Linked DNA regions of Homo sapiens. The protein of the gene in region 2 interacts with the protein of the main gene of each other region in a pairwise test. Each region holds a gene or a part of one and is shown on either strand. Other genes may lie near its edges.

The links. Proteins that work in one complex are often made in the same cells at the same time.
Region 1: the proteins of FCHSD2 (region 2) and CDK18 interact in binary tests that used the Homo sapiens proteins (3 or more experiments, as listed by UniProt).
Region 3: the proteins of FCHSD2 (region 2) and ACAP1 interact in binary tests that used the Homo sapiens proteins (3 or more experiments, as listed by UniProt).

The regions. Positions count from the first base shown.
Region 1 is NC_000001.11:205,521,653-205,528,677, reverse strand, and holds part of CDK18 (cyclin-dependent kinase 18), read right to left. Parts: intron 5,532-7,025; 5' UTR 5,511-5,531; coding exon 5,381-5,510; intron 5,196-5,380; coding exon 5,053-5,195; coding exon of another isoform or gene 4,963-5,052; intron 4,447-4,962; coding exon 4,321-4,446; intron 3,540-4,320; coding exon 3,483-3,539; intron 2,614-3,482; coding exon 2,499-2,613; intron 2,312-2,498; coding exon 2,217-2,311; intron 1,904-2,216; coding exon 1,841-1,903; intron 885-1,840; coding exon 761-884; intron 631-760; coding exon 510-630; intron 1-509. UniProt on the Homo sapiens protein: May play a role in signal transduction cascades in terminally differentiated cells.
Region 2 is NC_000011.10:73,132,312-73,139,336, forward strand, and holds part of FCHSD2 (F-BAR and double SH3 domains protein 2), read right to left. Parts: intron 1-7,025. UniProt on the Homo sapiens protein: Adapter protein that plays a role in endocytosis via clathrin-coated pits. Contributes to the internalization of cell surface receptors, such as integrin ITGB1 and transferrin receptor.
Region 3 is NC_000017.11:7,339,513-7,346,537, reverse strand, and holds part of ACAP1 (arf-GAP with coiled-coil, ANK repeat and PH domain-containing protein 1), read right to left. Parts: intron 4,591-7,025; coding exon 4,471-4,590; intron 4,264-4,470; coding exon 4,210-4,263; intron 4,123-4,209; coding exon 4,064-4,122; intron 3,160-4,063; coding exon 2,976-3,159; intron 2,833-2,975; coding exon 2,788-2,832; intron 2,678-2,787; coding exon 2,582-2,677; intron 2,490-2,581; coding exon 2,415-2,489; intron 2,000-2,414; coding exon 1,890-1,999; intron 295-1,889; coding exon 243-294; intron 148-242; coding exon 47-147; intron 1-46. UniProt on the Homo sapiens protein: GTPase-activating protein (GAP) for ADP ribosylation factor 6 (ARF6) required for clathrin-dependent export of proteins from recycling endosomes to trans-Golgi network and cell surface.

The sequences.
Region 1 (7,025 bases), on a different chromosome or scaffold from region 2:
CCACTGTGTGCCCCACTGGAAGAGAAGTACATAAATCCATTCTCCTGGGGAACCTTGGGGCGGAGTCACAGCAGCCATTCATAACCACCGGCGGCTTGGCTTGCAATTTGGGCTGATTTTTCATTTTACACCAAATCATACACTTGTTCATTTTAACATAAAAATAGTACTTCTCTTTCAAAATTTTCACTGGGACTGATGCTTGGGGAAGATTCATCGTATTTACTATAGGGGCCCTCCTGGACCCTCTGGGTCTCTGGTAACCCCCCACAGGCCTCTGGGGGAGGATTTCAAATGCACAGGCTTGGGGGTCTATTTAAGCCAGGGAAACCCTAACCTATTATATTTCAGACCTAATTTTTTAACATCCATTTCAGCAGGATGTCACAAGGCTTTTAGGCAAAGGAAGTTAGGCAGTTCTTCCCCGAGGCCCTTGGGGAAGCAAAGGAGAGTCTGGAGGTGTGGCCAGGCCTGTCCTCCCCTCCTCGGTCCCCACAGTGCTCACTCACCACATATCAATGGGGGTGGAGTACTCTGTGGATCCCAGCAGCACATCGGGGGGCCTGTACCACAGGGTCACCACCTCATTGGAGTAAGTCTTTGTGGGCACTGACTTGGCCCTGGCCAGTCCTGGGGGCAGACATGTCACTGGACCTCTGTCCACAGGTGCTGTGGGGTTGACTGCTATGCCCTCCCCCACTGCACCCACACCCTGAGGCACCCCAGTAGCGTCAGACCCCCACCCTAGCCCCAGCCTCACCAAAGTCGGCCAGCTTCAGCTCCCCCCTCTCGTTGATGAGCAGGTTCTGGGGCTTCAGGTCCCGGTGCAGGATCTTGCGGTGGTGACAGTAGGCGAGGCCCCGGAGCAGCTGGAACATGAAAATCTGGGGGAGGGGGAAGAGAAATGTGGGGTGGAAGGTGGCCCTGAGCCTCTGCTCCAAGGCTGGGACCAGGATGGGGGCAGGGGCTTGGCAGTGAGGTCAGCACAAGCCCCTCATTCTCCTGCACACCCTGCAGCCCCCATCCTGGACCCCACCCACACCAGGGAATCCCATCCAGAGGGGAGGACAGCAGGGGTGCAGAGGACGCAGTGAGTGTGGGGGAGGCCAGCGAAGTCTCAGTCAGGAGCACGGGGGTCAGGATGCCCGCCTATGTGGAGACATATGTGCTTGATCCCTTTTTTTTTTTTTTTTCTTTTAGAGTCAGGGTTTTACTCTGTCACCCAGGCTGGAGTGCAGTGGTGTGATCATGGCTCACTGCAGCCTCAACCTCCCGGGCTCAAGTGGCCCTCCTGCCTCAGCCTCTCAAGCAGCTGGGACTATGGGTGCACGCTACTGTGCCCGGCTAATTTTTCAATTTTTAGTAGAGATGAGGTCTTGCCATGTTGCCCAGGCTGGTCTCAAACTCCTGGGCTCAAGCCATCTTCCTGCCTTGGCCTCCCAGTGCTGGGATTACAGGCGTGGGCCACCATGCCCAGCCTTGATTCTTTAACAAACACCAGGAGAGGTCATTCATAACCCCGAGCTTCCCCAGAAGCCTCCCTGCATTTTGGCAGGTAGCTCACACTCCCATTTGACAGACTGGGAAACTGATGTTCAGAGTTGAGAGTGGGTTTTATACCAACAGCTAGACAGTGGCAGACAGTGTGTGTCTGTTCTTGGGGTAAAGCGCTCAACCCAGTTCCTGGACTCGTTGATGGCATTGCCCTCTCCCTCTTTCCTACGTGGGAAGGTCTGAGCCACCTCAGCAGCCGGATCCCTGGTGGTGAGAGTGGGTCCCCACACTGGGCTTCTGGACAGGTGGCTGCCAAGATGGGGGGACCCTGCCCCCGAGGCCTCACCTTGACGTTGTGCATGCTCATGAGGTTCCCACAGTGGTCCAGATACTGCTTCAGGTCACTGTCCTGGAACACAGAGCGTGGCTCAGTCCTGCCCCACGCTGACCCCTGGCCAGAAGCCCAGACACAGGCTGAGGAGAGGAAGCCCCTCCCTGGGAAGGGCCCACGCCCACTAGTGGGACAGGTCCCTGGCTCGAGCCACCCGTAAGCCTGAGCTCTTGGCCCACTCCTGCACGGGAGCATCTGAAAATCTGATTCCAGAACAAGGCCTGGGTCGCCCTCATCCCACTACTCCCACTCCCTCAGCTTCCCACTCCCCTACCCACACCCCGTTTCCACCACAAGAGGGAGAGGCGGCCAGCCCCAGCCGGACTCTCACCAGGTACTCAAACACCAGGGTGAGGGACCGATCTGTGTGGATGAGGTCATGCAGGGTCACAATATTGGCGTGCTTCAGGTTCTTCAGCAGAGACACTGTGAGGAGACAGATCCACCTGGGTCCCTAGGACCCCATGTGTCCCCATACCCTCTTTTCTTGGGGTCAGCGCCAGGAGTCCCATTCCAGCAATGATCCTCTACCCCCAGCTCCCACAAGGGTGCAGGCTGGTGAACCCCTCCTCCTGAAGCCCCCAGGGGAGCGTGGGAGCCTAGGATGCTGTACCCTCTCGGATGGCAGTGCAGGGCGCTCCCTCCTCGTGCTCCAGCCGGATCTCTTTCAGGGCCACAAGGTTCTCCGTCAGTTTGCTGCGCCCTTTGAAGACTGTGGCATAGGTGCCCTGGGATGGAGGGCCACAGCGGCCCCAGGCGCATTCAGGTGCTGCTGGCCTCTGTCCAGTGCCTCCCCATTTGTGCCTCTGCCTGGGCTACGACTGGGGCCTGAGTGCCCTTCCTCCCTTTACTGACATGCTGTTTCCTCCAAAGCCTACTTCCTCCAGGAAGCATCCCTAATGACTCCCCAGTCGGAGTGAATCCGTCCTTCCTCTAAGCCCCAGCACGCCGCGTGCCCGTCTATGATAACACCAGGTTTTTTCTTCCTTATACGATGCTGATGTTTACACAGAGGTCACCTCTTTGGGCTCCTGGAGGGAAAGGGCTGTGTGTTCCCTCTCTCTATAAACCTTCACCCACCCCAGGCCTCTGCACAGTGACAACAAAAATAGCTAAGTGACACAGCACTTCCTATGTGCCAGGCATTGTCTGTGTGCCGTACATAAGCTGATTACAGTAACCTGCCCAATCCTCACAATAACCCTATGTGATAGGACAATTACTGTCTCATTGGACAGAGGAAGAAACTGAGGCACACAGAGAGGTCATGTAACTTGCCAAAGGTCACAGAGCTAGTAAATGGTGGAGCTAGGTTTTGAACCCAGGCAAGAAGGACTTGCAGAAAAAAAAAAGACTGGATTCTGCCCAGGGCCATGGCTACTCTATCCTCACGCCCTCCTTCAGGATCTGAGCTCACTTCAATCCCTGCCAAAGCCTGGGCCAGAGCGCACAGCCAAGACTGTGCACCTCTATGGGGCAGGGGCCAGGAGAGGGCCAACCAGAGAGGGCCGACCAGAGAGGGCCGACTAGGGAGGTCTGCCCCTCCTCCAAGCCATCCTGCCTGGCTATTCGGAGAAGACCAAACCCAGCGTCTTACCTCTCCCAGTTTGTCCAGTTTCACGTATGTTTCCAGTTTCCCAAAGCCAATGTCTGACTGAGAGGGAGAGACATAGAATGCCGTGAGCTTGAAGCCCTTAGCAGCTCCACAGACATGACGCCTCCCCCAACTCCAGCCTCTGGGAGGGAAGGGATGAGACTCCATGGTGGAAGGGGCTCCTTTTCCCTTTATCCCTGTGATAAAGGACAGAGCTCGTGAAAGTGTGAGTTTCTTCCTCCCAGGACAGCCAAGAGTGTAGAGCCCAGAGCTGTGGCACCTGGGATTGTTGCACATCTTGACTACCTGTGTCTCCGACTGAGACCACGAGCTCCTCCAGAGTGAGTGCTGCCTTTTTTCCCATTGTACCTTGAGTGTCCAGTTCAGAATCCACCTCTCTGACTGTGTCTCTCATCAGCGCACTTCTAGCTCAGGTGTATCCAACCCTTAACAAGACGGATTCCTGGACCCCCTAGCCGGAGAGGCTGATTCTATAGGTGTCTGGAGGTAGAGTCTGTGTTTTGTAAGATGTCCCAAACAGCTCTGATAGGCAGTTAGGACTGGAAGGCACATGCCAGCTGGCCTATTGATCTTAACCATGTGGAGACCGTGGGACCCACTGTGGGCTTAGAGTCCCATTCCAGCCCAAGTGAGACCCATCTAGGAAATGGATGTTGATGTAGGAGGACGAGCTAGTTGAATGCACTCAAGCCAGCAGGTGGCACCAGAGGCCCAGGAATCTTCCTCGAAATCCCATCTAGGCCTCAGCTGGGACTGATATGCCCATGCTGGGGAGGGCATATCACCCCACCTTGTGTCCTCTGACCCTCTTGGGACTCACCAGGGAGGCCCGGCGGGACATGCGGCTGAGCGGCTTGGGCAGATCTGGGCTCTCCATCTGTAGCTTCTGTAGGAATTCCTGGGGCAGGCGGATATCCATGGGCAGAGAGAGCCTCTTGCTGACGTCCTGTGGTGACAGGGATGAGATGGGGACACCACTGTTGGTTTCAGGGTAGCTAGGGCTGTGGGGCTCCAGACTTTCACTCTGGACCTAGCGTTCCCTGCAGAACAACCATTCAGAGCCCAATCACAGGCTGTGACCCCAGGCTCACAGCTGCTCCCAGTGTGTGCTCAAGACATACACGTGAACACCCGGGGCTGCTGTGTGACCTTAGCACAGCCAGGTCACTCTCTGCCTCTCTGGGCCACAGTATCACCATCTGTGCAACATCAGTCTCATGCCCTTACAGGCACCGATTCTGTAAGTATATTTTTTCATATACTTGGGCATATGTGTGTGGATCAAATAGTCAAATTGTCTAGCCCTTGCTAAATTCAGGAATGTTCTAAGCACTTGGCATAGATAAACCCATTTAATCCATGATGACCATTTTAAAGACAAGGAGACCATGGTGCACAGAGGTTGAGTAACTTGCTCAAAGTCACAGAGCTAATGAATGGCAGAGGTGGAATTTGAACTCACAAAGTCTGGCTGTAAGGCAGCTGCCCTCCTGTGCACACCCTTGTGCGTGCATCCTGCCACCTGCCGGGGCAGAGCTCCAGAGGCCCTTACCTCCATGGAGAAGCGGCGCTGGTTCTGCCGCCGCTGGAACTGCACGCCAGGGGAGAGCTGCCCCGGCTCCTCCCCGCTGTCTGTTGGGGAGAAGGTGCTGCACTCCTGCGGGGGGTCTCTGCCAAGAGGACCGAGCTGCAAGTCTAAGAGGGACAGGCGTCAGCTCCCCTCCCTGCCTCTCTGTCCTGAGGGAGAGAAGGGTAGCCCCCCTCCCCCAGCGCTGTGCTCCTCCCCTAAGGCCAGTGGGGAGGGGGTGGGCGGGGAGGGGAAGGTGACTGGGGAGTGTCTGGTAGGTGGGAGAGGTGCTGGGTGGGCCCAGACCCCTCACTCTCATTCCGCCGGTTGTGGAGCTGGTTGAATTGCTCCGTGAATTCAGCCAAGGATTCTTCAATGGTCTCAGTGCGGGGCACTGACAGGGAGAAACGGCGCTTAAAGTTCTTCATCTTGTTCATGATCATGAGGGACTGGGCAGCCGGGTCCTGAGATGGGAAGTGTGAGAAGAGCAGTTGAAAAGAACAAGGCAACCAGTCCAGGTCTCCACCCACTGGGAATTCAGCTCTCTCATCAAGCTCTGTCGCCCTGTATGCCACCATCACTGGGAGCCAGGGTTGTGTCTTCTGCAAAGTTTGACCCCTCTGAGGGTGGGTGTTCACCCTCTTCTTCCCAGTCACCTTCTTCCTCCCAGTGACCCTCAGCACTGCCTCCACTGCCCACCGCCCGCCCCGCCACGCCCTGTGCAGTTCTCTATGGACCACCTAGTCCAGCAAAGTATTGGTCATAATAGCAGGCATGATGTGCAAAGAGGATCCTGAAGGCCCCCCAGACCTAAGCCCTTTAGCTGCTGGAGGTCTAGAGAGTTCTGGGGGAAGGGCTGGGGTGGCAGGGAGGGTGCCAGAACCAGGCAGTCCTTGGACCAGCAGAAATTTACCAACTTGTGTCCAAGGGCCTGAATGTGTCAACAGCCAATAAATCTTACTGACCAAGGCCCGTAAACTGAATGTCAGCTTGGCCAACACCCTTGGGACATGATTGGGTCCAAACCTCATTTCACCTCTGATACTGACACCTGAAGGTCTCTGCTCTGGCATGCCCCAGGAGGCAAGAGGGGAAAAAGAGGAGGAAGGGAAGAGTGCATCAGAGCTGGCCAGCTGCACCTTCTCTCCAGCTGAAATACAGGAGGTCAGGAGCAGTGGAAGGTCTCAGGGGAAACACGGAAGCTTGCCATTAATAGAGTCGAGCCCTAGGGAAGATGAGGCTTGATCCCTGCAGGCCTCTTCCCATGCCAGAGCCCTCCAAGCAGGCAGGTATCCCCTACCGAGAACACCATGGAGGAGCGGGGTAAGCTGCTCTGCCCACCCCCACGGTCCTGTCCCCAACCATGAAAGCTTTCTTCTTCAGGCTACCCAGCTCCTCGTGCCCTCTGAATTAGAGGATGCCCTGCTGGCCACCCAATGAGACCCATGCAACTGCTTCTTCCTGCAGACCCTCCCTTCTCCCTCCTGCCCTGAAAACCCAGAGCAGCGCTGTCTCACCTCCCCTCCACTTCCCTTCATGGTTTCCTACACGCTCAGTGCAGCCCCCCTCTCATCCTGCTCTGCACACACTGCCCTTGAGGCCTCACAAGGGCTTCCACCCATGCTGGCAAGAAGGCACCAGGGGGTGAGCCCTATGATGGGCCGCCCTGCACCCGCTCCCAGCTGTTACCCATGCACCAGCACCAGGCACAGCCCACTCCTGGAGGATGCTCTCAGCCCTGCGACTGGCCAGCACCTAGTTGCCAAGGCGACCAGGCCCTTCCCGAATCCTCCTGGTTTAAGGGATTATGGGTCAGTAACATGTTGGCTTTGCTTAATGATCACATCCTTCTGTCCTCAGCCAGCCTGGAAAGGGTCCTCTGTCTGGCAGCGCATGCTCCTGGCTGCCCCCAAACACAGCTCAGTGGTGGCCCTCCAGCTGCCCTGATCCTCATGGCT
Region 2 (7,025 bases):
CTTGGCATTTCACCTGTCTCATTTTACTTTCACAGAAAAGCAAAAAGGTCAATATTAATCTTGTTTCACACATACAAAATACTGAAGCTCAGAAAAGCTAAGCCACTTGTCCAAGATTACCCAGCTAATAAGCAGCAGAGCTGGGTTTCAATCTACGGCCTACCTTCAAAGCTCTTGTTTCCATTACCAGTGGTTCTCAAAATTAAGTGCACATAAAAAACTCAGGTGAAGACAGGCACTGTGACTCATGCCTGTAATCCCAGCACTTTGGCAGGCTGAGTCAGGTGGATTGCTTGAGCCCAGGAGTTTGAGACCAGCCTGGACAACATGGCAAAACCCCATCTCTACAAAAAAATACAAAAATTAGCTGGGCATGGTGGTGTGCAACTGTAGTCCTAGCTACTCCGGAGGCTGGGGTGAGAGGATTGCTTGATCCCAGAAGGTGGAGATTGCAGTGAGCCATGACCATGCCCCCTGCACTCCAGTCTGGGTGACAGAATGAAACGGTAACAGAAAAAAAAAAAAAAAAAACCTCAGGTGATTCTTCCATAGAATGGGAAAAAAATACTGCATATATTTGCAAATCATATATGTTATAAAGAACTCTTAAAATTCAATAAAAATGATTTTTTAAATGGGCAAAGTACTTGAATAGACATTTCTTCAAAGAAGATATACAAATGGCCAATAAGCACATGAAAAAATGCTCACCATCATAAGTTGTTAGAAAAATGCACGTCAAAGCCACTTACAATATCACTTCACATCCACTAGAATGCCTATAATCAAAAAGACAGACAATAACATGCACTGGCCATGACGTGGAGAAATAGGACCCATCATGTATTATTGCTGGTGGGAATATAAAATGGAGCAGCTATTTTGGAAAACAGTTTGAAAGTTCCTCAAAAAGTTAAACATAGAGTTACCATATGACCCAGACATTCCATTTTTAGGTATATATCCAAAAGAAAAACATATATCCATACAAAAACTTATACATGAAATGTTCATAGCAGCATTATTAATAATAGTAAAAAGTAGAAACAACCCATATCTCTGTCAACTGATGAAGGGATTAATAAAATGTGGCATATCCATACAATGGGGTATTATTTGGCAATAAAAAGGAATGAAGTAATGATACTACAACCTGATGAATCTTGAAAACATTACACCAGGCTGGGCGCAGTGGCTCATGCCTGTAATCCCAGCACTTTGGCAGGCCAAGGCAGGTGGATCACTTGAGGTCAGGAGATGGCCAAACCCCATCTCTACTAAACATCACTGAGGCTTTGAGATGGCAAAACCCCATCTCTACTAAAAATTGAAAAATTAGCTGGGTACGGTGGCGGGCACCTATAATCCCAGCTACTCAGGAGGCTGAGGCAGAATTGCATGAACCCAGGAGGCGGAGGTTACAACGAGCCGGCATCGCGCCACTGCACTCCAGTATGGGTGACACAGAGAAACTCCGTCTCAAAAAAAAAAAAAAAAAAAAAAAGTAACCATTATGCCAAAAGAAACCAGTCGCAAGATTCCACTTCTATAGAGACAGAAAGTAGATAAGTGGTTGCTTAAGGCTGGAGAGGGTTATGGGGAGCGACTGCTAATGGGTACCAAGTTTCTTTTAGGGGTAACTAAAACATTTTAAATTGGCGTGACGATTGTACAATCCTATAAAAAAAAAGTTGAATGGTACACTTTAAATGGGATACGTAATCATATATGATATACAGTCACATCATGTAACTTACATGATATGTACATTGTATATAAATAAAGCCTTAAAAAAAAAAACTCTAGACCAGATTAGATTACCTCTAAGATCTCTTTCTAGATACAACAGTCTCTGAGACACTGAAAAAAAGTCTCAGCACCATGCACAGTGGCTCATGCCTGTAACCCCAACACTTTGGGAGGTCAAGGTGGGAGGATCACTTGAGCCCAGGAGTTCGAGACCAGCTGGGGCAACATAGTGAAACCCTCTCTCTACAAAAAATACAAAATTAGCCAGGCATGGTGGTGCATGCCTGTGGTCCCAGCTACTCAGGAGGCTGAGGTAGAAGGATCACTTAAGTCTGAGAGGTTGAGGCTGCAGTGAGCCATGATCACACCACTGTGCTCCAGCTTGGGTGACAGGGCGAGACCCTGTCTCAAAAAAAAAAAGTCTCAGAACATCCATAAACAGACCTTGGAATCCAATCTCCCATGACTCCTGGGAATCTACAGTTCAGAGAAAGTAACATACAGTACAGTAATTCCTCACTTGAGGTCTCTAGACCACCAGGTGTCTGCAAAGGCAGGACAGGTGCTTCTTGAGCCAGTTTCAATTCTTCAGAACATCTATAAGAAATCACATATTCAGCCTTCTCTGGGATAAAGTTTTTTAAGTGTCTTTGACTTTGGTGAAACTCACGTTAACGGTTTGAAAATAGTGATTTGGAGCTGATCGACAGCTCAATGTATCAAAAAATAAGAAAACAAATTATTCCCTGATAATATACTGTTTTCTGGGGGGGAGTTTGTTTTTTGGTTTTTGGTTTTTTTTGAGACAGAGTCTAGCTCTGTCACTCAGGCTGGAGTGCTGTGGCACTATCTCAGCTCACTGCAACCTCCACCTCCCAGGTTCAAGTGATTCTCCTGCCTCAGCCTCCCAAGTAGCTAGAGTAGCTAGGATTATAGGTGTGCGCCACCATGCACACCTAATTTTTGTATTTTTAGTAGAGACAGGGTTTCACCATGTTGGCCAGGCTGGTCTCGAACTCCTGACCTCAAGTGATCCACCCGCCTTGGCCTCCCAAAGTGCTGGGATCACAGGCATAAGCCACCGCACCCAGCCTCCTGATAATATATTATACTTTTTGATAGGCAAAATATTTTTTACAACTGGACTCATGATGAGTTCCTTGGTTAAAAGCTTGGGAAACACAGATACAGGGGAGAGTACAGTAGTATGGAAATCAGGACAAATAGCTTAGAGTCTTCAACAATATAATTCACTTCATTTCACTGTGCCTCAGTTCCCACTTTCATCTATAAAATGAACAAACATGATAATATCCACCTGACTAAAATTCAATAATTTTTCCATATTATAGACCTCCTTAAACTGTCCTCTAAGAAGGTAGTTCTTTAAATTCTGGGTCACTGCAAAAAATTTTTCTTAACTAACTCTACTCAACATAGCACAGGATAAACAATCCTAAGAAGAAAAGTACACAGACTCTAGTATGTAGAAACTTATTGTAAGTGGTCTTAAAAAGCAAAGAGAAAAAAATATAATAATAAACTAAAAAGAAAGTAGACTCTACTTGTCTACTGCTGATAGCAAAAGTCAACAGGAAACACATCAGTATAAAACCTCCACAAAGCATGGAATGTCCCTGATTAACAACAAATTAGTTGTCTTTTCATCTCAAACTTCACTCCCAAATACTAGCTTCCAAATGCCATTCGCAGAACAAATGAACTGAAAAAGGGGAGGAGAACAAAGGAGAAAAACTGTATCATAATTGGTCTCCTCCCCTCGAAATTCCAAAAGATAAGAACTGGGGATTAAGGGGTGCGTTGCAGCAGTAGTGGCTCATTTCTGTAATCCCAGCACTTTGGGAGGCTGAGTGGGAGAATCACTTGAGCCCAGGAGTTCAAGACGAGCCTGGGCAACAAACAAACCCTGTCTCTACAAAATCTTTAAAATAAGCCAGGCATGGTGGCACGTGCCTATAGTCCTAGGTACTTGGGAGGCTGAGGCAGAAGGATCACCTGAACCCAGGAGGACAAGGACACAGTGAGCTAAGATCACACCACTGCATTCCAGCCTGGGCAACAGAGCAAGACTCTTGTCTCTTAAGAAAAAAAAAAAAAGAAAGAAAAAAGAAGGGACGTAATGGGGAAGAACTAGACAAAATTTAGCATAAAATTCTATTTACAGTCTAATGTGCTGTAGATTTTTTTTTAACTTTTTTCAATGATATAAAAACTTTTGACATTTTCTCAAGCTGGGCACAGTGGCCTGACGGTAGGACTGCTTGAACCCAAAGTTCAAGACCAGCCTGAGTAACATGGTAAGACCCCATGTCTACAAAAAACACAAAAATTAGCCGCGCACCTGGAGTCTCAGCTACCATGGAGGATGAGATGGGAGGATCGCTTGAGCCCGAGAGGAGAGGTTGCAGTAAGCAGAGATCACACCACTGCATTCCAGCCTGGGCAACAGAGTGAGACTGCCTCAAATTTAATAATAATAAAAAAAATTATCTACTACTAATTTCTTTAAGAACACAAAGCTATTTGTACTTTTCTAAGTGAATTCATACTAACTTAAATTGAGCATAAAGTTGGCAGGGGGCACTGGTGAGAAGGAGCACTAGTCTCAAAAGAGGAAAAGCAAGTAAGATCCTTTACAACTTAATTCATATAAAAACCCAAGTTCGGGCCAGGCGCAGTGGCTCATGCCTGTAATCCTAGCACTTTGGGAGGCCGAGGCGGGTGGATCACTTGAGGTCAGGAGTTCAAAAGCAGCCTGGCCAACATGGTGAAACCCAGTCTCTACTAACAATACAAAAAAATTAGCCGGGCGTGGTGGCAGGTGTGGTGGCAGCTACTAGGGAGGCTGAGGCAGGTGAACTGCTTGTACCCAGGAGGCGGAGGTTGCAGTAAGCTGAGATTGCACCACTGCACTCCAGCCTAGCCAACAGAGCGAGACTTTGTCTCAAAAACAAACAAAAAAACATCCAAGTTCAGAGATTTCCAGTGAATTTTTAAAAAATCATTCCACTTACTAGGGCAGACAAGAGAAGCCAGATCACCTCCTTCCTCAGGCAACTGAAGTTATCATGAATACCAAGAGGAGGCAAGTTTCAACTTTTTCAATATTGTCTTTGAAAAAAAAAAGCAAATCAGAAACCTAAACTCTTGTTTTAGTAGGTAATACGGTATCCTATTTACAACTCTATGGGAATGAAAGGATTCATTCCATTAAGTTAATATAGATAGAAGAACACACTAACTCCTTTAAAAAAAACCTGTTAATCCTTGGAGCACCAACAATCTCTGTCTTTACATATTATATACTCTACAACAAACAAGATAGTGTAATTAAAGTGATCACGTGAACCAAAGTATATAACACAAGCTCAACAGAGGCCCCTATAGCTCCCCTACAGAGTGTATACAGTATCTCACCCAAGAAAAAATAAGATACATTTAAATATAGCCAGTTACATTCGACAACAAGGGTATAAAGATACAAAAATGAATAATAGCCCATAACTTCAAAGACTTCATCTGAGGGAGGATGCCAGAACCATGTGCAAAATCAAAATCCTTTGAGATCACAGAGAACAAAGAACTTGCAGTTATTGGTAATCAAGAATTTGTCAGGTGAAAAAGTGGGAGGAAGGGTACCAACAGGCAAAGACAACAGCATACACAGGGGCATGAATGTAGAGTGCACAGTTAGACAACCTGACGTCCCGAGTGACCAGAGCAGGGGGAAGAAAGAGGAAGGATGCATGGGCATGAAACGGTAGTAACTAAGCCAGGAAAGGAAGCTTGCAGCTGGGTTGCAGAGAACCATATATACTATGACAAAGTGTTTGACCTTTATCCAGAAGGCCACAGAGGAGTGATCTATAATAATGTTTTTAGAAAGCTAACTGGTGGTAATGTGGAAGACATATTTAAAAGAAGAGATGGGAGATGGAAGATATAAGGACACTACTGCAATAATTAGGATACTAGTATATTGCAAGCAAAATGTGATGGATCAGCAATAATACAAACTAAGCAACAGCAACAGGAGCAACAGACTATATCAACTTAGCTTAGATGTGTGCCACATCTCATATGTATTGTCATTTGATCAATACAACCTTGGGCAACAGAGGCCATTATTGCCCCATTTTACAAATAAGAAAAATTAAGTTTATAAAGATTAATTCATTTTCTACAAGTCAGCACAGATATCAGGACACAAACTCAGGACTGTCTGACTGCAGTGTCCATATTCTTGACCATAAGCTCCTGCACCAAGCTACAGACAACAGGGGAAAAATGGAGACAAAACGCAATCAAGAAGTCTTTAGAAGACACAACCAACAGAAATTATTACAACTACTGACCACCCATACCCCACACGGGATCTTCACTTACACACTAATTCTGCCTTCCTGAACTGCTTCTGAAAATGTATTACTTTCTTCATCTAGATATTTCTTAGTTTGCTTAATAAGTTAAAAAAACCTTACATTTTTAACCATGTCAAGAGTTTCAGATATCTTGCACAGGAATTTTTTTTTTTTTTTTTTTTTTGAGACAGGGTCTCACTCTGTTGCCCAGGCTGGAGAGCAGTGGTGCCATCTCGGCTCACTGCAACCTCCGCCTACTAGGTTCAAGCAATTCTCTGCCTCAGCCTCCTGAGTAGCTAGGACTACAGGCGCACGCCACCATGCCTGGTTAATTTTTGTATTTTTAGTAGAGACAGGGTTTTATCATGTTGGCCAGGCTGGTCTCGAACTCCTGACCTCAGGTGATCTGCCTGCCTCAGCCTGCCAAAGTGCTGGGATTACAGGTGTCAGTGACTGCGCACGGCCTCGCATAGGAATTTTTAAGTCTAAATATTTTCTTATGGCTATGATAAGGGAAGGAAGACAAATACAGAATTAAAATTGTAATTTTCAGTCAGAAAACAACAATCTTGATATATCCAGGTTGGATGAGAATAGATTTATATGCCTTAGTCATAAACCCTGAAGACAGGTATACAGCAGAAATGCTTATAGTGCCTAAATATAGGAGAGGAAAAAAGGAAATTCTTGAAACTAAAATCTTTGGGCTATAAACAGCAATCCAAACACATAATTTTATCATTAACACCAGAGTTAATATTTTTCATGAAACCAACACGAAGTTAGTGTACCACCAGAAAACTAGGTAACTGATGAGGCTTACAGACCCAATTCCAATTTGATAAATGTATTATACAAGGGAAATAAGAATTGCAGCCACTCTTGCTTCACCAT
Region 3 (7,025 bases), on a different chromosome or scaffold from region 2:
AGTTGTTTAGATATATTAGAGTATCACCCCTGGGGATTGCACTCACTTGCTGGTGGACACCACCTCAAAGCAGAACCGCCTTTCTGAGTCAGGGCAGAGTTTCACTGTGCAGAGACGAAGGTCATCCACCACCACAGTCACAGGGTCCTGGCAGGATAAGGTGATAAGGGGCCAGATGTCCAGCTGCAGGCAAGAGCTGAGTCTCCCTGGGGCCCAGGCATCCAGGACCCAGGTCCACTCACCTTGTACTTCTTCTGGTAAACCAGTTGGTTGCTCTGAATGGTGAACCAGCGTCTGTAAGAGAAGGAAATCATTACAGACATAGGCAGCTTTAGGATGAGGGACGGAAGAGAGGCTGTGCTTTTTGCCCATGAGGATCTTACTGAGAGGACAGACACCTGGGCTGACTGTTCCACGAGACATTCCAGAGAAGGGTGGACAATTGTGCAGATTGGAACATCTAAAGGATGCTATTCCTATCTTGGACAACCCAGATTTCATATAGTTATGAAGACAACTTTCCAGCAGATGGCAGTAAAATTCTTTTTCTAATAAAATGTCTATTGCTACAATTTAAAAAATACTATTTAGGCTGGGCTCACACCTGTAATCCCAGCACTTTGGGAGGCTGATGGGGGTGGTGGATCACCCGAGGTCAGGAGTTTGAGACCACCCTGACCAATATGGTGAAACTCCGTCTCTACTAAAAATACAAAAATTAGCCAGGCGTGGTGGCAGGCGGCTATAATCCCACCTACTTGGGAGGCTGAGGCAGGAGAATCGCTTGAACCCAGGAAGCTGAGGTTGCAGTGAGCTGAGATCGCACCACTGTGCTGCAGCCTGCGCAACATAGCGAGGCTCCATCAAAAAAGAAAAAAAAAGAAAAAGAAAAAAAGAAAAGAAAGAATCTTGGGGGCCAGGTACAGTGGCTCACGCCTGTAATCCCAGCAAGTTGGGAGGCCGAGGCGGGTGGATTGCTTGATGTCAGGAGTTTGCAACCAGCCTGGGCAACATGGTGAAACCCTGTTTCTACCAAAAATACAAAAATTAGCCGAGCGTGATGGCACACGCCTGTGGTCCCAGCTATTTAGGATGCTGAGGAGGGAGGATCACTTGAACTCAGGGGATAGAGGTTGCAGTGAGCCGAGACTGCGCCACTGCACTGCAGGCTGGGCAACAGAGTGACACCCCATCTCAAAAAAAACAGAAAAAAAAAAAGAAAAGAAAAAGAAAAAAGAGTATCTTGGGGAAGCAGCTCCATTTTCTAATTTGTACAGAGATCCCATGTGGGCTAGCAGTGGCCCTAGAAGGGAAAGGAGTCAAGTCACAGCATGCCACCATCCTGTTCCAAACCCTATAGCGGCTCCCAATTGCTCTCAGAGTAGACCCCAAATCCCTACAAAAATCTATAGGGCCCTATAATGACTCATGCCCCCATTAGCTCCGATTTCATCTCCTGCACATCCTCCTCCCTCACTCTGTCCAGACCCAGGGCCACCACCCTGCTCTTCCAACTCCCCAGCTATCTCAGGGCCTTGGCACTGGCTCTTTCTTCTGTCTAGAACTTTCTTCCCCCAGATATCCTTCAAGTCTTTGTTCAAAAGTTACCTTCTCATGAAGCCCACACTGCCCAACTATTTAGAACTGTAACCCCTACCCAGCTCCCCACATCCCTTGCTTTATCATCTTTCTCCTATAGCAAGCACTATCACCTTCTAACATAGCACGTAATTTACATACTAGGTTTATCCTCTGTCTTTGCTGATGGAATGAAACTCTACTGAGGCAGGGGGGTTCGTCTGTTTTTCCTTGCAGTGCTTAGTGTGCTATTACCACTCGAAAATACATCATTGGGTGGGGCGGGCTGATTGGGGGTGTCCTCTCCTCACCTGCTCCAGGTCTTAAATGCGTTGCTGGCCCGTTTGAAGAGATGTCCTTCCATCACCAGGCCACCAGGCCCCTCTCTTAAGCTTGGTTCTGGCTCCTCCCCACCCAGCTCCTGGAGGCACAAGAGGATCAAAGGGCAACTGAGATGGGCAGACACCAAGGCCATAGGCATCTGCCTCCTGCCCACAGCCCTAGCCCTTACTTTCTGCTTTTTGAAATACTTTTTAAAATTTATTTTTAGAGACAGGGTCTTGTTCTTTCACCCAGGCTTAAGTGCAGTTGTGTGATCATAGCTCACTGCAGTCTTGAACTCCTGGGCTCAAGCAATCCTCCCACCTCAGCCTCCTGAGTAGCTAGAACTAGAGGTGCATGCCACCACACCAGCTAATTTTAAAATTTTCTGTAGAGATGGAGTTTCACTACGATGCCTAGGCTAATCTTGAACTCCAGGCCTCAAGCAATCTTCCCACCTCAGCCTCCCAACATGTTGGGATGACGGTCGTGGGCCACCGCACCTGGCCCCTCACCTTCTGTTTCAGCAGCACGTGTCTCTGCTCCATGTCCCTCTTCTCTCGTGCTGAATTCAAGACCAGCTGGTGCAACTGGGCACAGGAAGGGCATCTCAGATGTCCAAGGCCCCCCAGTTAGGAGTCCCTAACCTCCCTCTACCACCTGCTGTGCCCTGGGGCCCCACCTGGGCGCCCAGCTCCTTTCGATACTGGGACAGCCGGCTCAGCTCCTCATGGCCCTGCTGGAAATGGGTAGCCTGGGCCTCCACCAAACGCAGCACCTGGGGGACAAGGCGGGCAGTGGGAAGGCTGAGGAAGAACCCCTCTCCCCATTCCCTTGTGCTGGCAGCAGGCTCTTCTCCACCCTGCCCTCACCCCCGCCACAACTCACAAACTCCATGATGTCAAACTTCCTCTTGTCCTCAATCACGTTGATCTGAGGACGTAAAAGAGGACGTAAAAAACCCCAGATCAGTCTTGAAGACACAGCACCCCTTCCCACTGCACACTGGAGACCCCCAAGCCTCGAGGTGACACTTGAGGCTCTGGTACCCCAGGAAGACAGATTGGGGCAGGCACCTGCAGGGCATAATCCAGTGCCCGTCCCCGGTACCCAGCTCGAGCCGTCCTCAAAGCAGCTCCTGCCTCTTCTGCCTCCTGGGCCCGGCGCCTGGGAACCTCTGCGTTGTGGGTCAGGGCAGCCTCCAGGCTCTCAGCCCCCCGCCAGAAATCCCGGCGAGCCTCTCGGAAACCCCGCAGACCTCTGAGGATGGGAAAATAACACAGAATCGCAGCTAACACCCACCTGCCCCAGCAGAGCATTCCCAGGGTAAAGCCCTCATGTCCTTTCAGTTAGTCTCTGCAACGTGGGAAACCCAAGGTGATCCCTGGGACGGAAGTCAGGACACCAGAAACCCCCAATCTCACAACTCCGTCACTGGGGAGGCTCCTGTGGCCATGGGAAGAGGGCAGCAGGGCTGGTTTCCGAGAAATAAGGCCCCCTTCTCTCCCATCTCACTCCCCCTTTAAAAAATTTTTGTTGTTGTTGTTGTTTTTGTTTTTGAGACCGGGTCTTGCTCTGTTACCCAGGCTGGAGTACAGTGGCACAATCATGGCTCACCGCAGCCCTGACCTCCAGGCTCAAGCAATTCTCCTGCCTCAGCCTCCCAAGAAGCTGGGACAACAGACATGTGCCACCACGCCCGGCTATTTTTTTTTTTTTTTTTTTTTTTTTGAGGCAGAGTCTCACTCTGTTGCCCAGGCTGAAGTGAAGTAGTGCGATCTTGGCTCACTGCAACCTCCACCTCCTGGGTTCAAATGATTCTCCTGCCTCGGCCTCCTGAGTAGCTGGGATTACAGGCACCTGCCACCATGCCCGGCTAATTTTTTTTTTTCGTATTTTTTAGTAGAGCTGGGGTTTTGCCATGTTAGACAGGCTGGTCTCGAACTCCCGACCTCAGGTGATCCGCCCGCCTTGGCCTCCCAAAATGCCGGGATCATAGGCATGAGCCACCGTGCCCGGCCTAATTTTTGTATTTTTTGTGGAGACAGTTTCGCCATGTTGGCTAGGTTGGTGTCCAACTCCTGGGCTCAAGCAATCCTCCCGCCTTGGCCTTCCAAAGTGTTGGGATTACAGGCATGAGCCACTGCGCCCGGCCCCATCTCACTCCTTGACCAGGGTCTGGATCTGCTGCTGCAGTGTGTGTTGGGTGGCATCTAGAAGCTCCTGAGGGAAGGAGAAGTTGGTAGACTGGGGTCAGGACCACAGGTGACCTGGCCACCACCCCGACAATCCTTACCTTCCCCTACTTACCGCATGGCTGTCCAGCTTGTGGTTCAGGCTCACGGTGAATTTTTCCAGACACTCCTAGGCAAGAAGAGGCACAGAAAGAGTACCAGGCATGGGGTGGCAGCACCCTCCCGACTCGAGACCCAGCCTGCTACGGCTGTCATGGACAGCAGCCCAGCCCTGCTGTGGCCTGGAACCTGCAGACCCCAGGCCAGCCCTCCTCTTCCACAGCATCACCTCCTCATCCCAGACCCCTTCCCTCCCAGATGCAGACCCTCCGCATACCGCCATCATGGGCTCTGGTGGACCCAGGCGGGCCAGGTCACAAATGCCGACAACGAAGGCGCGGCTGGCAGCAAGGTAATGGCGCCCACTTTCCAGGAGACCAGTGCCCAGTTTCAGGAGCTGGGAAAGAAGGAGGGTAACAGGGAGCTGTGCCATCATCCTCACACCTGGTGATGCCCCCACACCTGCCCCACTTCCTCTCCCCTTGCCCAGGGCGGCGCTCCCCTATTCCTGCCTGGCCTCACTGCCCTCCAGGCTCATCCAGCTCTCCCTGTATCTAACACATACCTGCTGTGTTCTTATCGCTGCGTCTTTGCTCCCACTGCCTTGGGCCTGAAACCCAATTCCTGCCCATTCCTCTCAGCCTGTCGCCAACACCTCTGTCAGCCTTACCTCCAAAACATCTTTCCCTGTCCACTCGCACATATCTCTTCCTGCCCTGCCTACCTGCTTAGATCCAGAGCTCCGTGGAGATTCCTGCATGGTCTGGATGCTCTACCTGGTTGCTATTAAATTCTACAGTATTGGCCGGGCGTGGTGGCTCACACCTGTAATCCCAACCCTTTGGGAGGCCAAGGCGGGCCAGTCGCTTGAGCTCAGGAATTCAAGAGCAGCCTGGGCAACATGGTGAAACCTCATCTCTACTAAAAATTCAAAAATTAGCCAGGCATGGTGGCACATGCCTGTAATCCCAGCTACTTGGGAGGCTAAGGCAGGAGGACTGCTTGAACCCGGGAGGCTGAGGCTGTAGTGAGCTGAGATGGCACCAAGTGCCTATAATCCCAGTTACCTGGGGGGCTAAGGCAGGAGGACTGCCTGAATCCGGGAGGTCAAGGCTGCAGTGAGCCGAGATGGCGCTACTGCACTCCAGCCTGGGTGACAGACCGAGACTCTGTCTCGAAAAATAAATAAATAAATAAAATCTATAGTATTTACTGCTAGGAGTTGTCCCATTCTGTGCTCACTGCACGTTCCCTCATAAATATTAATCCATCATCTAGACCACGGGTCAGGGCCAAGAGGAAATGCCGGGGTACTCCTGGGGCCCATCCTATCTGGCTCTTTTGACTGACAAAGAGACTTGATAGGCCAGGCAAGGTGGCTCAGACCTGTAATCTCAACACTTTGGGAGGCTGAGGTGGGTGGATCACCTGAGGTCAGGAGTTGGATATCAGCCTGACCAACATAGTGAAACCCCATCTCTTTTTATTTTTCTATTTTTGAGACGGAGTTTTGCTCCGTTGCCCAAGCTGGAGTGCAATGGCATGATCTTGGCTCACCACAACCTCCACCTCCCAGGTTCAAGCGATCCTCCTGCCTCAGCCTCCAGAGTAGCTGGGATTACAGGTGCCCGCCACCACGCCCAGCTAATTTTTTGTATTTTTAGTAGAGACGGGGTTTCACCATGTTGACCAGGCTGGTCTCGAACTCCTGACTTCAGGTGATCCACCTGCTTCGGCCTCCCGAAGTGCTGGGATTACAGGCATGAGCCACTGCACCTGGCCTGACCGAGATCAAATCTTATCAGACATCACCATGGGTTGTCTGTGACAAGGTACAAGGATGTTCACAAATCACTGTGTGAATCTGAGGACTCTGTGTCTAGTTTTTTTCCTTACCATCTCAGCCCCTCCCCCTTAGATGAGTAAGAAACTTTCATAACACTGGACTAGTGACAGACTGGGACATCTGTTCAATAGAACAGTACTCAGCAATAAAAAGGAACAAACTGTTGATATGTGCAACAACTTGGATAAACTTCAAGAGCATTCATCTTTTAAAAAATTATGATTATTTTTAGAGTTGAGGTCTCTGTCGCCCAGGCTGGAGTGCAGTGGTGGGATCATAGCTCACTGCAGCCTTGAACTCCTGGGTTCAAGGGATCCTCCAATCTTAGCTTCCTGAGTAGCTGAGACTACAGGCACACACCACCATGCCTGGCTAATTTAAAAACAAAACAGAACATTATTTAGAGACAAGGGTCTTGCTATGTTGCCCAGGCTGGTCTCGAGCTTCTGGCCTCAAGCAACCCTCCTACCTTGACCTCCTGAGTAGTTGGGATGACAGGCATGAGCGACCACACCCGGCAGCAGCATTATTCTGAGTGAGGGGGGAGGGGGAAGCCAAATCTCAAAGGGTCACATAGTGTATGATTCTATATATGGAACATTCTGGAAATGACAAAAGTAGAGAGATGGAGAACAAATCAGCGGTTACCACAGATTAAAGAAGTGTGGGAAGGGTGTCGGGTACCACTGTAAAGGAATTCCTTGTGTCCATTGGTGTGTGGTGATGGTTAAAGGAATCCATACACGTGATAAAGTACCATAGAATTATACACAAAAACACCAAAAAAGAGTATATGCAAAATGTAAAATCAAAGTAGGATCTATAGAGTTTATTTATTTATTTAGAGACAGAGTCTTGGTCTGTCGCCCACGCCGGAGTGCAGTGGCACGATCTCGGCTCATTGCGACCTCCGCAGGCTGGAGTGTGGTGGCGTGATCTCGGCTCACTGCAACCTCCGCCTCCTGGGTTCAAGCAATTCTCCTGCC